2 separate regions of the Homo sapiens genome follow, and region 2 is linked to region 1. The links come from fine-mapping of genetic effects on gene expression. Tissue or cell type: skeletal muscle. Region 1 holds a variant in brackets; the other region holds the start of a gene. All regions are shown on one strand. Distances are from middle to middle.

Region 1 (8,105 bases):
CACTAAAACCATCAGAGAGGATTCCAACTTTGCATTTCACTAAAATGTAAGACTTTTTGCTTGAAAACGTCTCATTTAATGGACTTATCAGCTTCCCAATCTCAATATCTTCAAGACTCCTATAAACCTCCACTCTCCCTGATTCTAGCACCTAATTAATCAAAGTCAAGCACTGTTATCCCAGAAATGTCTCTTAAACACCTTAAGCCACCTCCAAACACTTTCACTTCTCCAAACCTTTGAGCAGAAATGTGCTATTTCCTCTGCTGGGAGTATGTTTGAATCCCTTTTTTAAAAAAGGCTAAATTAGAGGTCTCCCTTATAGACTTAGCTTTGGGAAGAGCCTTTCCCATTTTCACACAGCAAAGGTGGCCATTCCTCAACTGTGTTCCCCTTGTGCTGTGTTCATGCCTTAATTCCAGCATTTTTTTTCAAGCCTCTATTGTAGGAATTACTATAGAAGGGTTCTGTTGAAAGTATCTTAACCTGCTCCCCACTGTCTGAAAGCAACACCAAGGAGGTATACAGCTTCAGTATCTTTGTAGTCTTCCGTTCTAGCACATGGATGAAATATAGCAAAAGAGTGCTCAGAACACATTTATGAAATAAATGAATAAAGAAATGAAAACGAATGGACAAGCATGGAGGACATATTAGGTTGAAAAAAAATAGCTTTACCAGTCTGTGTAGCTCCTGATCACAACAGTATATACTGGTCACACCTTGTCCCATTATTTCCACCCAAAATCATACTCTTTCTTTAAGACCTGTCTCAGATGCTACCCCCTTCAAGCTTCTGTCTGTAATTAATCAACATGCAGCCCTTTGCTTCTGGGCAATGCTCACATGACACTCATCATTTGCTACATTTTATGAGAGATCATGCACTAAAAAAATAAAAAATACCTAAAATAAACTGAGAGACTGCTATGTGCCAGCCACAGGGAAAGTCTCTTTCCAAAGCTGAGTCTCTAAGGTAGACCCCTAATTCAGCTTTTAAAAAGTTCCAGATGCTGAGCACAAAGAGTTGAACAAAATGAAAAAGGTCTCTGTTCTTTTGAAGCTTATATTTCAGTGGATGGAGACAGATAATAAATAGCACATAAACAAATAAATAAAAAGAGAGTTTCAGTGTTTTAAGGACAATAAAACTGGGTAATGTAATAGTGTTTCCCTCAGCATTCTCATTTGTAGCCAGCAGAATTCAGTTTCACTAAAGGAGAATTTATTAAGCAGGATTCCTTCAAAAACTCAACAGAAAGACCAAAGAAACAGGCTCTTGTCAAGTTTCCAGCAAAAAAATTGGACATTTCATCTCTAGCATATGACACATGTGGAGAGTCATTGATTTAGTACTACTCAAGAGGGGAGAAAACATTCATTGAAATCTGATCATATTGTGTGACTTTGTTGTTTTTTTCCGAGACAGAGTCTCGCTGTGATGCCCAGGCTGGAGTGCAATGGCCCGATCTCTGCTCACTGCAGCCTCCACCTCCCAAGTCAAGCAATTCTCCTGCCTCAGCCTCCTGAGCAGCTGGGATTACGGGTGCCCACTACCATGCCATGCTAATTCTTTTTTTTTTTTTTTTTTTTTTGTGAGAGGGAATCTCGCTCTGTTGTCCAGGCTGGAGTGCAGTGGCGCGATCTCTGCTCACTGCAAGCTCCGCCTCCCCGGTTCACGCCATTCTCCTCCCTCAGCCTCCAGAGTAGCTGGGACTACAGGCGCCCGCCACCACACCCGGCTAATTTTTTGTGTATTTTTAGTAGAGACGGGGTTTCACTGCGTTAACCAAGACAGTCTTGATCTCCTGACCTCGTGATCCACCTGCCTTGGCCTCCCAAAGTGCTGGGATTACAGGCGTGAGCCACTGCGCCCGGCCTAACTTTTGTATTTTTAATAGAGACGGGGTTTCACCATGTTGGCCAGGCTGGTCTCGAACCCCTGACCTCAAGTGGTCCACCTGCCTCAGCCTCCCAAAGTGTTGGGATTACAGGCGTGAGCCACCGTGACTGACCAAATTGCATGACTTTTTTTTTCCATTTTGCCATGCAAGTTTTCCCTTCCCTCCTGCCTTACTTACCTACAGATTCAGATTTTTTAAAAGGAGTTTATGCTTTCTATGACTTTTTGCATTAGGGTTGAAACTTTCAGTCACAAGTCGTTTGGGACAGATAACTTACTAAAGGTCTAGAACAAATGACCAGCCACCCAAGGACACATATGCAGGCTGGCATGCCTGCAGCCAGAAAGAAACCATATGGAAAGCATAGCACAGTCCAATAGGTCTCTGCTCCTCCATAGGACAGTCCAATAGGTCTCTGCTCCTCCATAATAACTCTCTTGGAGAAAAGTTGGGTTCTGTGTCTAGTGTGAAACTCTCATAAATAGTTTTTTGAACAATCATGTACTTGGTGGACTACAAGACAAAATGATTTTGTTTTTCTTCTATCAGTCTTCAAACAAATGCTGTTGGCTCCTCCTTTCCTGCTGCTTCATGGCATATTGGGCAGATCCCACAGGTGGTGTTAAAATGTCCAGCCCAGTTAGTCCAGTTTAAAATTTTATTTTTATATTCAATTCAAAGCATTTCCCCTCTCCGGTGCAGAACTGCCTTGCATACTAGGAAGCAGGCCCTTTTGATTCTCCTTCATTATGGGAAATAGACTTGTTGGTGATACTGGAAGCTAGTGCCCCAAAACGGAGCACAGTGAGCCTTAAGCATCCCACTTTGTAAAATGAAAGCATGGTTTTCCTCTTCAGGCTTATTACAATGAGGTAAAGCTAGTACTATGGCCAACACTCATCCATACCCTCTTCAGTCCAAAGAAAAGACTAGAAATTTGAAAAGATTGCCTAAACTAAATTACCATTCCCTTTTCCTCCTAATGCTTTGGAGTTCTCCAAGATCAGGATCTGAAAGCAAGGATTATGGGTAAGTGGCAAAAGCACTTTTACTTCGCAGCTACAGTTGACGCTTCTTCCCTAGCTATTTCAGTGCTTCCAGAGGTCCCTGAGGCTTCTCACTGCATGATTCTCTTATGTGGGAGAACCTTTTTGACTTGACTTCCTCCAAATATCTATTCCCCTTCTGCCCCCAGGTAATACTTTCCAAAATACCTTATTGCTATGGTACTCCTCCCCTGCTGGCCAGATTACTTGCAGGTAGGAGGGAGGAGCACTGGCAAGACAAGCTCGATACTGGCTGACTCTCAGTTTCCACATGGCCCATTGAAAACTCATGATCCTCACCCACCACAGAGTGAGAGCGTCGGCGACCCCATTATAAGCTTCTTTTTCCACCCAGCCATTGCTCTATTTCTTTCTTTTTCCTTTGCTCACACAGATTGAAGATTGGCAAATCCACTGCTCCAACAGATATCCAACAGGGCAAAGGGGATGCCAGGCTACCGTCTTTTAGGCATGTGTGGTCTCTGCAAGTGGTCCTTGCAGAATACTCCCTAGTTTGACTTGGGTGGGGAGCGGGCCCCATTAAGAAGGGAGGGGAGAGGAAAAAATAAAGTTTTTCTCCCCTAAAGGCACAATTACTCCATATTTTCACAAATTCCATTGAGTTTAGGCAATCTTTTCAAATTTCTAGTCTTTTCTTTAGACTGGAGAGGGTATGGATGAGTGTTGGCCATAGGACTAGCTTTACCTCATTGTAATAAGCCTGAAGAGGAAAGCCATGCTTTCATTTTACAAAGTGGGATGCTTAA[G/A]GCTCAATGTTCTCCGTTTCAGGGCACTAGCTTCCAGTATCACCAACACGTCTATTTACCATCTTATTATACCTGTTTAGATGCAGGTGTTCTAGAAAAGAGAGGAATTAGGGTGAGGATTTTAGAATTGGAAGGCCAAGGAAATGAGATCTATGAAAATCGTATAGGCCACATAGAACAGGCTGGAAGATCTCTCTGTGTTTTCTCTTCCAAGAAACTAAGAATATGTCAGTCCCCTTCACCTTGCATGGATGTTTTAGGTTTCAAGCAATCCAAGTCGTCTTCAAAGCTGCTTGGGTTTCTTAGCAATCAACAAGATAAGTACAAGGTAACTATGTCACAAAGATCAAACGTTGTTACTCATTGTAGTCACTGCATTCCAAACTTTCCCAGTGTAGTAGCCATTGGAGGTCTATGAGCATCCTTCTAGAAGAAAGAAGAGTCTCAAATGGACTCTTTACTAACCTTTAAAAACAAGTCACTTTTTTTTTTTATTATACTTTAAGTTCTGGGGTACATGTGCAGAATGTGCAGGTTTGTTACATAGGTATACACGTGCCATGGTGGTTTGCTGCACCCATCAACCTGTCATCTACATTAGGTATTTCTCCTAACGCTATCCCTGCCCTAACCCCCACCACCAGACAGGCCATGGTATGTGATGTTCTCCTCCCTGTGTCCATGTGTTCTCCTTGTTAAACTCCCACTTATGAGTGAGAAAATGTGGTGTTTGGTTTTCTGTTCTTGTGATAGTTCGCTGAGAATGATAGCTTCTAGCTTCATCCATGTCCCTGCAAAAGACATGAACTGATTCTTTTTTATGGCTGCATAGTGTTCCATGGTGTATATGTGCCACACTTTCTTTATCCAGTCTATCATTGATGGGCATTTGGGTTGGTTCAAAGTCTTTGCTATTGTGAATAGTGCTGCAATAAATATACAGGTGCATGTGTTTTTATAATAGAATGATTTATAATCACTTGGGTGTATACCCAGTAATGGGATTGCTGGGTCAAATGGCATTTCTGGTTCTAAATCCTTGAGGAATCACCACACTGTCTTCCACAGTGGTTGACAAAACATCACAAAAGTGCTGTGAACGAAACAAGTCACATTTTAACAACTATGTATTAAGCCCTTTACAGCTTTCATTGCTTAACTTTCTTTCTATAGCTCTTTTCCACCACCTTCACCCTCCAGAACTAACAAATGCAAAGGTAGGAGGTAGCAGATGCGATCTATGGTAATTTTCCTCCAACATTAGAGCTCTTCACAGTGATAGTATATTATGAGACTCACACAGGGTGCCACATAAAATGTATGTTTGTTAGATACCTTTCAAATTAAATTCAGTCACAGGAAAATATGATGTGGTGGGTTCAATTTCCACACTCTGACCCCTGCTCCAAAAAATCCATTGACTTTCCTTTATTCAGTTTTGCTCATAAAAACAAACTTCTAGAGTACATTTCAACTGCAATTCAATTGATAAATATTTGCTCTATGTACAATATCTGGATTCATAATCACAGCCTACAGTAGCAGTTCTCAATCGTTTCTTTTAAATAATAGAGACAGGGTCTCACTCTGTCTCTCAGGCTGGAGTGCCATGGTGTAATCACAGCTCACTGCAGCCTCGACCTCCTGGGCTCAAGTGATCCTCCCACCTCAGCTTCCTGAGGAGCTGGGACTACAGGCGTGCACCACCAGGCCAGCTAATTGTATTTTTATTTTTCTGTAGAGATGGGGTCTGGCTATTTTTTCCGGGCTGGTCTCGAACTCCTGGCCTCAAGGGATCCTCCCACTTCAGCTTCCCAAAGCAATGGTATTACAGGCATGAGCCACCACGCCCGGCTGTGGTTCTTAATCTTAATCTTGGCTCTACATTAAAACTACTGGGGGATTTTTCAAAACTCTCAGTACCCACCCCAATCCTCTACTAATTCACACAGAAGTTCTTGAGGGTGGGACCCAGGCATCAGTTTTTTTAAAGCTTTCCTGGTATGCAGCCAAAGTTGAGAAACACTATTGGAAAGTCATCCAGAGCCGTGTTCTCCAGATCCAGGAGGCTGTCGCTTTCCATTAGCTCCTTCTCAACCTTGGTCCTTGACCCAGGGGTCCCTACCAGCCGCCCTCCCGGCCTCCACAGGCCTTTGGGGCGTGTATCCTTGTCCTCTTTGCCCTCCACAGAGCATGGTCTGGCAGATAGACGGGGGTGGCACAAGGGTGACATCTAGTGGTTTAAAAAATGAAGTTAGCGTCTTAATGGTCCCATTCTCTGAAAAATGGCAAGAGAACGACACCGGCGGAACCTGGTCTGTGTGCCGCCTGGGATTGGCTCAGCCATGGTCTCCTGTCCTCTGCAACTGACGATGCTCTAGGAGCCCTACAGGGCTGAACCTCATTCTTGGAGGCCTCAGAGGGAGGTCCTCCTTGAACTCAGTCTTAGCCTTCATGCTGTTTTGCCTACCCCGCCACCAGGCCCGCTGCTATGGTGGCTGTTCCCTGCCCTTAAGTCACCGGCAGACGTGGCCTGATGGCACCTAGCCTCAAGCCTGACCCACCATGCCATGCAAGCTTCCACCCCTGTTGCCATAGAGAAGCACTGGGCGCTCACACGCACACGGGCTCACCTGGCCTGGTTCCTTGGGCTGCAGGTGAATGGTGGACCTCTCTTCCCTCTCTGGCTCTCCCCTGTTCCCAGGCTGCCCCTATGCTCTGGGCCTCACACCACGGATGCCTCTGCGGCTCCCCCAAAATGTGGGTGAGTCATTGCCCCGGGGCCTTGCATTCATTGGCTCTGGCTGCCGTAACAAGGTACAGGCAGACCTCGTTTTCCCGCACTTTGCTTTATTGAACTTTGAAGATAGTTGTGTTATTTATAAATCGAAGGTTTGTGGCAACCCTGCATTGAGCAAGTCTATCGGTGCTATTTTTCCAACAGCACGTGCTCACTTTGTGTCTCTGTGTCACATTTTGGTAATTCTCAAGTATTTCAAACTTTTTCATTATTATTATATCTGTTACAGTGATCTGCGATTTGTGATTTGTAATTGTTTCGGGGCTCCATGAACCATGTAAGACAGAGAACTTAATCTATAAATGTTCTGACTGGTCATTCCCTCATCTCTCTCCTCCTCATCGGGCCTCCTGAGACACAATAGTATTGAAATAAGGACAATTCATAATGCTACAAGTGTTACACTTAAAAGGCTCTAAGTGTTCCAGTGAAAGGAAGACACACACCTCTCACTTTAAATCAAAAGCTAGAAATGATTACACTTAGTGAGGAAGACATGTTGAAAGTGGAGATAGGCCAAAAGCTAGGCCTCTTGTCCCAAACAGCCTAGCTGTGAACACAAAGGAAAGGTTCTTCAAGGGAATTAAAAGTGCTGTGAGGCTGGGCGTGGTGGCTCAAACCTGTAATCCCAGCACTTTGGGAGGCCGAGGCGATGGATCACCTGAGGTCAGGAGTCCGAGACCAGCCTGGCTAACATGCTGAAATCCCGTCTCTACTAAAAATACAAAAGATTAGCCGGGCGTGGTGGCACACACCTGTAGTCCCAGCTACTCGGGAGGCTGAGGCACGAGAATTGCTTGAACCCCAGAGACGGCGGCTGCAGTGAGCCGAGATCGCGCCACTACACTCCAGCCTGGGCAACAGAGTGAGACTCTGTCTCAAAGAAAAAAAAGTGCTGTGACTCCAGTGAATGCACACATGATAAGAAAGCCAAACAGCCTTATTGCTGATATTGAGAAAGTCTGAGTGATCTGAATAAAGATCAAACCAGCTGTATAACATTCCCTTAAACCAAAGCCTAATCCAGGGCAAGACCCTAACTCTCTTCAATTCTGTGAAGGCTGAGAGAGGTGAGGAAGCTGCAGAAGGAAGTTTGAAGCTAGCAGAGATTGGTTCATGAGGATTAAAGAAAGAAGTTGTCTCCATAACACCAAAAGTGCAAGGTGAAGCAGCAAGTGCTGATGGAGAAGCTGAAGTTATCCAGAAGATCCAGCTAAAATCACGGATGAAGGTGGCTCCACTAAACAACAGATTTTCAAGGTTAAAAAAAAAAAAGCCATCTAGGACTTTCTTAGCTAGAGAGAAGTCAATGCCTGGCTTCAAAGCTTCAAAGGACAGGCTGCCTCTCTTGTGAGGGGCTAATGTAGGTGGTGACTTCAAATAGAAGCCAGTACTCATTTACCATTCCAAAAACTTTAGGGCCCCTAGAATTATGCCATATCTATTCTGTCTGTGCTTTATAAATGGAACAACAAGCCTGGATAACAGCATATCATTTACAGCATGGTTTCCTGAATATTTTAAGCCCAGTGTTGAGAAATATTATTCAGAAAAAATATTTCTTTCAAAATATTACTGCTCATTCACA
Region 2 (8,105 bases), 710 kb after region 1:
TGCCTCTACTTCTGCCACCTGGCTTCCATCAAATTCATAAGACTTCATTCATGTCTCAGGATGACAGCATATATTCTCCACAGGATCGGTCTTCAATCGTTGGTGCTCAATGGCAAATGCGATGGTATTTTCCTGTTCCAATCTCTTACCCCTTGGCTGTACTGTGCCCAAGAGAATCAATCTATAAAGTCTTAATGTTAGAAATAAAGCTGTCTGCTGACCATTTTTCCTAGACCACAACAATAGCTCCCCTTCAACTACCTAAATGTGCACTACACGTATGGGTAAAGGGTCACAAATGCCGTCTACCAGACCCCAGAGTTCAAGGGAAAAGTAATAACTCAGGTGGGTTCACAGGTTTCAAACAGAGTCTAACTCTACATGCTGAACTGGGCCTTTTAGAATCCAGTGTGACCAACATCTTGGTGATATCTGCCTGTTTTTGTGACAGTATTCTAAACTAAGCAGGCTCTTCTTGGCCTCTACCTTGCATCTTTCCTGTCTCCCCGCTACTCCCACCTCTGGGATCAGCTTTGATAAGACTTAGCTACTTGGGTAAACCTAGGCAATGGGGCAGTCAGTGTTCTTCAGGGAAGTAGAATTATCTTCCAATTCTGCTGGAAGGGCTGTGGACATTAATGATTTCATACTATTAAAAGTGCAGACAGCGTCTGAGGTGGAAGTGCAACTACACCGTCAAATGTTATGTTAACATCTCTAAGTATACGGAATGTATTTTTAAGGGGAATTTTAAGTTTGATGGAGTCCACTGCAGAGACATTTTGAAGCCATGTGATTTTATGATGACTGCAGGGAATATGCAGTCAAAAACCAAACACCAAAAGTGTTGATTACAAACTGTTAGGGAACTTAAAGTTAGGATGGTCTAATATTCAAAGGATAGAGCCTTTTTGTAGTCCTTAAATACTTAGAGATTATAACTGAGTCTTTTCAGAATGTCACATAACATTTTGCAGTTAACTGGTTCTGAGTTGTCCAAATGACAATTTAGATGTGAGCAGGCCCATCCCTTAGGCACTCAGAATCCACTCACTAGTGCAAGCATGTACTAGATCCCAAAAAGTTCATCTCAGGAACCCTCAAGATAAACCACAGTCTCACGAACCCTCAACATAAACCACAGGCTCATGAACCCTCAAGATAAACCACAGTAACATGGGCCCTGGTGTTTTCTTCTTCGATGGTGGAAAAGATAACTAGTCCCCCCTAGTGTCCTGCTACTGTAGGTGGCTGAAGGATGGCGACACTACAGGACGCACCCTCCCTGCACTGTGCATCAACTTTAAAGCGCAGCTCAGGAACCCAGAAACAAAGGAAACCTTCGTCACAACCTTCCCAAGAGATGGAAGCACTTCCGAGACCTATGATGAGATGAAAAAAACCTTTCATTTCATTTCTAAGGCCCTTCCAGGTATGGTTTAAAAGCCAAAGGAATCTGCATTGGCTCACATCAAAAAGTTAATCCACACCCCAGCACACTTCATTAAGTGAAGCAGGAGGGCCCACACTTGTCAGCAGCTACTGCTCACTCCAGAGCAATCCGATCTTCCCGTTAAAAACCTCTCTCTCCTGCCAGGGGGATTTGATTCCTTTCCTCGCCACTCTTGAAAACCCACTAACCTCTAAATCTTGGTGATTTTTGCCTCTCTGTTCGAGTGAGTTTTCTTCCTGGTATGGAATTAACAGGGACAGGCTCGATAAATGTGTTCTCCACAAGCAATTTTCACTAAAGTACTCTTGAACAATAAAGGTACACTAAGAGATGTGTGAAATCTTAAAGCTGGCGTTTTTATTTCTTTTATTTTTACCCCTAGGGAGGACCAAGCGTGCCAGTGAGTAATTCATTCATGTCACCCATTTGTGAGGGATGGGAGAAGAAACAACCACCACTTGTTCCCTTCTTAATTTAGAAGCTTTCCTTATCTTAAGTCTATCAAAGCTGACTCCTGAGGTGGGAAGACAGGAGAAGTGAGAAGAAAAATTAACCCGAGGTGACTGCCTCCACGGAATGATAAGCACTTCAGGTCTCCACACCTGTGTCAGAGAAGAAAGGCATCTGCATGTCAGGGAGGCGGACGCCCCCACCTGCCACCCCCTCCGTTTCTCCCCTTGAAGGAAGCAGGAGCCTGATCTCCCCCCACTCCCTCCTCTCTCTCTCTCTCTGGGCACTTACATAAGACCCTGTAAAACTTCCAGTGACATTCACGAAAAATGTAAGCTGCTATTTTGCTCCCTCAGGAGATCATTTTAATGGACTGAGTGACAAAATTCACGGATTCTGAATTCAGCAGAAACCTGCTCAACCGAGGCACATCAGCACAGAGACGAAAAAAAAAAAAAAAAAGAGTCCAACCCCATTAAACAGGGTCACCCAAGGGATGGATTCAGTGTGCAAGAGACAATCTGTTCCCTCCGAAGTGACCCATTTAAAATCAGATTGTTCTGGGGGAAGCTCACAGGTTTAATAAATTTCAAACAGGCAAGGACAGGCTTGTACAACTGAGGTTCCTTAAGAGGAACATTTAAAAGAGGATAAGGCAATGAACAAAATAACTTGAGGATACACAAACTTTGGAGTCCTCACTCCAAAACTTCAAAAGCAGTGACATTTACAAGAATGTCTGGATAGCTATACACTGATCACTCCTCACAAGCAGCTTTGACTAACAGGAAGGACATGCTGGCTGGGCTTCCCCCCTACAGATAGCAATGCCAACCAACCACTCTGTCCTAAAGAGGGACTCGCAAGCTGTGGCTGCTCGCCCCCAAATTGCGCAGGACTGTCTGCAAGAAGGAACAAGAAAAGTTATTCACAGCATCACACCACGAAAGGTAGTTGCGTACCGCCCAACAGGGCCCTCTCCAAACACGGCAGGCTCCGCGAACCACAGGTGCTCACCGCTAACAAGAGGGCCGGGGGTGCGGGTATCGGTCACATGCCCTCGTGGTGTTAACCAGAAACTCCTCCTGGCTCGCTCCCTGCCAGCAGCCTGTGTGCCCAGAAGCCGAGCAGGCCCTGAGGGGGTCCTGGGGACTTCGGAGACTGGGGGCTTCCACCTCCAGCCTCTCCAGGGCTCCCGGCCGGGGCAGCAGAGGGTGTGCCCGGCCTCCCCGCCGGCATCCCGAGTACAGGGGGTACCAGCCACAGGTTCGGAGAACTTGTCCGGCGCTACACACCACGGCGCCCCCGCGGCGACTCTCGCGCTCCGGGGCTCTTACCTTGGCCGTGACTGCCGCCAGGCAGAGGGAGACACGGAAGAACAGGGTGGCGCGGCGGCGCCGCCGCCTACGAGGCGCAGGGGGTCCGGGTCAGGGTCCCGGCAGGCGCTGCCCTACTCGGAGCGGCGGTGCCAAGCACAGAGTTCGGGACTGCCCCCGGCTCCAAATGCCGCGGCGAGGGTCCGGGTCCCCCAAGCTGAGCACTGTCCCTTCTTCCTCTTCCTCCGGGGCCGCTGCCTGGAGCTGCTCCCGGCCCGGGGGACTCTTCCGAGCCAGGGGCGCCCCGCATGGGCAGGGGCCTGGGTCAGCCTCGGGTTGGGTCCAGGGAGCGACCGCCGGGGCCGACTCCACCTCCCGCGCTCCAAGCCGATTCGTCCCTTCAGGGCAGGGCCTGCCCGCGAACAGCCCGGCGAGACGAGCGCGGCCGCGCCCCCAGCTTCGGGCGCCCGGGCTCCGGCGCGGCGGCGGGGCAGGAGCAGACTGGCCGGGCCGGGCGCCGAACGCGGCGGCGCGGGGGGGGCTGCAACCGGCCGCGGCGCGCTCTCCCCCAGGGCCTGCGCCGCCCGCCCGCGGCTCCGCGGGAAAGAAGCGCCGGAAAAGGCCTCGCCCCGGCCTGGGGCGCGGGGCCGGGGGCGCGGGGCTAGGGGAGGCGCCCCGGGAAGGTCACGGGAGCGGAGGCGCGGCGAGTGGATCGCGGCGCGGTGGGTGCGGGGAGCCGAGGCGGGCGGCCCCCGCCGCCGGGAGCGCTCGCCGGCCTTGGCCGCCGCCGCCGCCTCCGAGATGCGCCGGCTTCCCGGAGCGCCCGGCGCTCGGAGCTGGGCGGCCGCTGCAGCCGCCGCGGGCAGCCGGGCGCCGCTGGCCGGAGCCGGCGCGCGATCCCCGCCTCCCGCGCCCGGCCAGGAGTGGGCCGCCGCGCGGGAACCGGCAGGGGCGGGCGCTGGGGTCCGGGCTCCGGGCTGGCCCCGCCGCCTCCGCGTGCCCAGAGCGCCGGACTCGCTCAGCAGCTGCAGTGACTGTGTGTCTGTGTCATGTCTGTGCAGCCGGGGGGGACCGCGAGCCGGGGCTGGGTTCCGAGCGGGGGCGGGGCCGGCGCCCGCGTCGGCGCCCGCCCCCGACCCCGTGACCGAGCGGCCGGCCAATGGCAAGCGCCGCAGCCGCGCGGACCGAGAGTTCGCCCCCGCACAGGCTCCGCCCCCCGGCGAGACTCCGCCCCGGTGCTTCTTCAGCTCGCTGGCTGGCAGGCAGGCGGAAGCAACACCCGGAGCCGGGATCCCGGGCCGGGTCGGGATGAAAGGGTGCAAGCTGGGAGCTCCCCGCCCTTCTTCCCCCAACCCCGGCGGCTCCCGGCCGCCTCGGGCTTGGCGTGCCTCGCGGAAAAAGGGGGAAGGGAAGCGGGACGGGCCCGCAGCTGCCGTGGTAGAGAGGCTCGCAGGCTTGCAGGACCATGCAGCCTGCTCCCCAAATTGCACAAAACAGCCGTCGTGAGAAGTAGGAAGTTTCCCCGCCTCGGGTCGCAGCTTCTCTCGGAGGTGGGCATGCTGTGGGGCAGCCGGAGTCTGTGAGGAGCCCCGCCGAAGGGCTCTGACGGCATCTTTCTGGGATCGGTATCCAAGAATCCTGTCCAAGGCTTCCTCTTCCTCTGAGGAAACTACATTTCTTTTTCCTCCACCCCAAACACACACCCCATGCACGCACAACACGCCCCTCCCCTGCTGATTTTATTCTCGCTCTTTCCCTCTTGGCATAAGAACCCGGCGCGCAACATCCCTTGAATGGACTTCCAGCCTCCCAGTTCTAGGGACCAGGGTGGGGGTACGGAGAGTCCTCCCGAGCCACAGGAGAAGTGGGTGAAATGGGTCGGGGCACAGGAGCGGGGGTGTGAGAATGGATGGAAGGAGGATGCCCTCGAGAGAAGACCCAGAGGAGGCGAAAGCAGAGAGGCAGGGAGAGAAAGAGGACGCCGAGAGCTGCACAACTCGGACTCGGAGACCGGAGCTCCGGGCGCGCGATCCAGCTCCCGGGTTTTTCCGCAGCTCGGTCCCAGGGCTTCTGGGGTCCCCTTCCCCCCGGGTCTCCACCTCTCCCCAGCCGGGCGGGCCGCCGGGTCTTTGCCTTCCCTCTGCGCGCCTCTCCGCTCTCCAGGACTCGAGCGAGGCAGCGGGAAGCCCACCCTAGTTCTTGGAAGGGGCAGGGGAAGGATGGGCTGGGGAGGGGGCGCGCGGGAAAGGGCCGCCGAGCTTGGGTTGCCCAGCTGACCCCACTCCTCGAGGTCGGGCTGGGGGGGTGGGGCGGCAAGGGCTTCGGAGGCTTGGCCCCTGCTTGGCTCCGGACCTGGCTCCCGCCTCGGTAACCACACTCTCGGCCTTTGGCTTTACCGAGCTGGGACCCTTCTCCCATCCCCCTTCCCTCCAGCCTCGTGAAACAACGACCCCCACCAGCAGCAGCAGCGCCCGCTTTGCCCCGGCTCCGGAGCGCTGTTTACCTAATCTCAGCGGCTGACCGAGCCCAGCAGAATGCGAAAGGGAGGCAGCGGTGGTACAGCAGCGTCCCCGGCGAAGAAGTAAAAGACGTTTGCTTTGGAGCTTCGGGATAAGTTAACTGCGAAGCTGGGGTCCTGCTGTCTTACCTCTGCGGCGATGAGCCTCACCGTGCACGTTGGCAGGCATAGCAGATTCTGTTTCTGATGCCATTACCGTGTCGGAGAAGAACATTATATGAAAAAATACTATCTAATATCCTAGAGACCATTAAAGTGTCAAAGTTTAATGCCAAGTCTTTTAGCTCGAAGGCTGCTCAGTTCTTCCTCTGACGTGCAGCTCTGTTCCAGAACGCGCTGAAAACAAGGGGATCATTTTTATTTTTTTGCCGCCCGAATGTCCTTCCTTCCTACTCTCTTCCTCCTCTCTCACCCCTACCCCCTCCCCGGAACCGGGTAAAGTTAAAGGGAGAATTTGTACTTTCTTTTTACGTTTTGCTTTGCTTCACTTCATTAGTGGTGTAAAATGCATTATTACAGCACATTAGCATATTAATAAAGGTAACGTGACTGAGGAAAGGAAAAGACCTGAAATTTACAAGCGAAGGAGAAATAGTTGAATAACATCAGAAACTAAAAGATAAGCTTCCGGGAAAGAAACATCTCCATTATAATGACTCAAGTGTAGTACATTCTCTAGATGGAATCTAAGAAAGAAAAATGTGACCATGGTGTGGGAGCTAGCAATGTTCACGCTGGTCAGTAAGGCACGTTGAAGACATAATGCCTTATTAGTGGATTTCACAAAGTGTACTTGCATTGGTCAATAAGCACCTTAAATGTGGAAAAGCTTTGTTTTATCAAATCAAGGTTGCAAGTGCCTGCAGTCAGTGGCATAGCTAATGCTCTAAATGATATTAATGTTGTCAGACTGAAATGTGCCACATACTGAGTCCTCTGGTTAGTACATCAAGCCCCAGGTTTAAAGTATTACGTTGGAAAATTGTAAAGCTCCTCAACTCCCCAGTCCAAGCAACTAAATATGTATATACATATACATGGAAACCCTGAAGTAGGATGTAGTTACCAGGAATTATAGCCTTTTGACACAACCAAGATACAAATGTCTTAAAAGGATTTCCGCTACGATATAGTATGAGAATGCAGAATAAAATATGTAAAGTGATATATCTGTTATTTGTAAAGAATGAGCGCAGCTTTTGCTGAGAACTGAAAAATGAAAAAAAAAAATGAGCTATCTAAACCAACTGTTATCTGTTTATCTCCACACAGTTATTGTACCTGTCACTGAAGAGATTCGGAAAGGTCTCTTATTTTTTATTAGGGTCAAGGAGACCGAATCCTAAGAAACCTGAGGTCTTAAAGCAGCCACTAGGGGGCCCTAAAGGCATCTCAAAGAGGAAGCCAGGAAACACTCTCACCTCCGTTTTTCTGTGTGCCTGATATTAGGAACTGGGGAATCTAAAGGCACGTTAAGAACACAGTGCACTGTAGTCCCAGCACTTTGGGAGGCTGAGGCGGGCGGATCACATGAAGTCAGAAGTTAGAGACCAGCCTGGCCAACATGGCGAAACCCCGACTCTACTAAAAATGGTAAAATGTTCCGGGCGTGTTGGTGGGCGCCTGTAATCCCAGCTACTCAGGAGGCTGAGGCAGGAGAATTGCTTCAACCGGGGAGGCGGAGGTTGCAGTGAGCCGAGATCGCACTCCAGCCTGGGCGACAAAAGCAAAACTCCATCTCAAAACAAACAAACAAAAACATAGTGCAAAGTTTGGAGGCAAATCTAGTTTTATGTAATAAATGACCTGAGTCCAATTTTGACTCCTAAGTCAATTTAGTTTCTCAACTCTTTTCTCACCTCCAAGAAAGGAAATATTGTATCCTTGAGAGGAGGGTTACCAAATACTCTTAACTGTCTCAAAGTCGGCACAATTATGTTTGCCATTCCAAACAGGACGTTCTTTCAAAGATTTGAGGACTGTTTTCTGAATGTTTTGCACATTCTTCAAGAGCTACATAACAAGACGATTGAATTCTCACAAAGAGGATATTTAAAAGATTAAGCAACCTGTACAGCAGGGCACCCACCTGCCAACTTAATTGAAGTCAAGCCAGCCACAGGGGCACTAGCATTAGAGCTGAGTCCTGAAGGCTTCTGCTAGGCCAGACATTTATTCTTTAGTGCTGGGTTCTGGTGAAATGGTGGTGTTGATGTTGGGAGGAAGGAGTGGTTCCTGCAGCAGGGGTGAGGAGACAGGGTATAGTGGGAATGGCAGCCAGTGGTAGTGGAGGGGTGATTACTCCAAGGGCTACTTAGCCAGTATGGAAGGATTGCAGTATCTTAATTAATGTTATATTTATCAAAAC

Evidence for each region. PIP is the estimated chance that this variant, and not a neighbour inherited with it, causes the effect.
Region 2: LARGE1 starts here. The variant in region 1 is fine-mapped to the expression of LARGE1 in skeletal muscle (GTEx, PIP 0.98).

The regions. Positions count from the first base shown.
Region 1 is chr22:33,204,376-33,212,480 of GRCh38, forward strand. It overlaps a transcript of LARGE1 not described here. Among named protein-coding and RNA genes, the nearest start is that of LARGE1-AS2, 44 kb to the left of the region's middle. The variant G/A (reference allele first, on the strand shown) is at 3,718.
Region 2 is chr22:33,916,755-33,924,859 of GRCh38, forward strand. It overlaps LARGE1 (LARGE xylosyl- and glucuronyltransferase 1), which reads right to left and starts at 3,722. Exons shown (of 15, transcript NM_133642.5): 1 at 3,241-3,722. LARGE1-AS1 (LARGE1 antisense RNA 1) reads left to right here and starts at 4,471. Exons shown (of 2, transcript XR_001755630.2): 1 at 4,471-4,769; 2 at 5,653-6,301. RefSeq lists silencers at 3,250-3,349, 3,620-3,769, 4,090-4,589.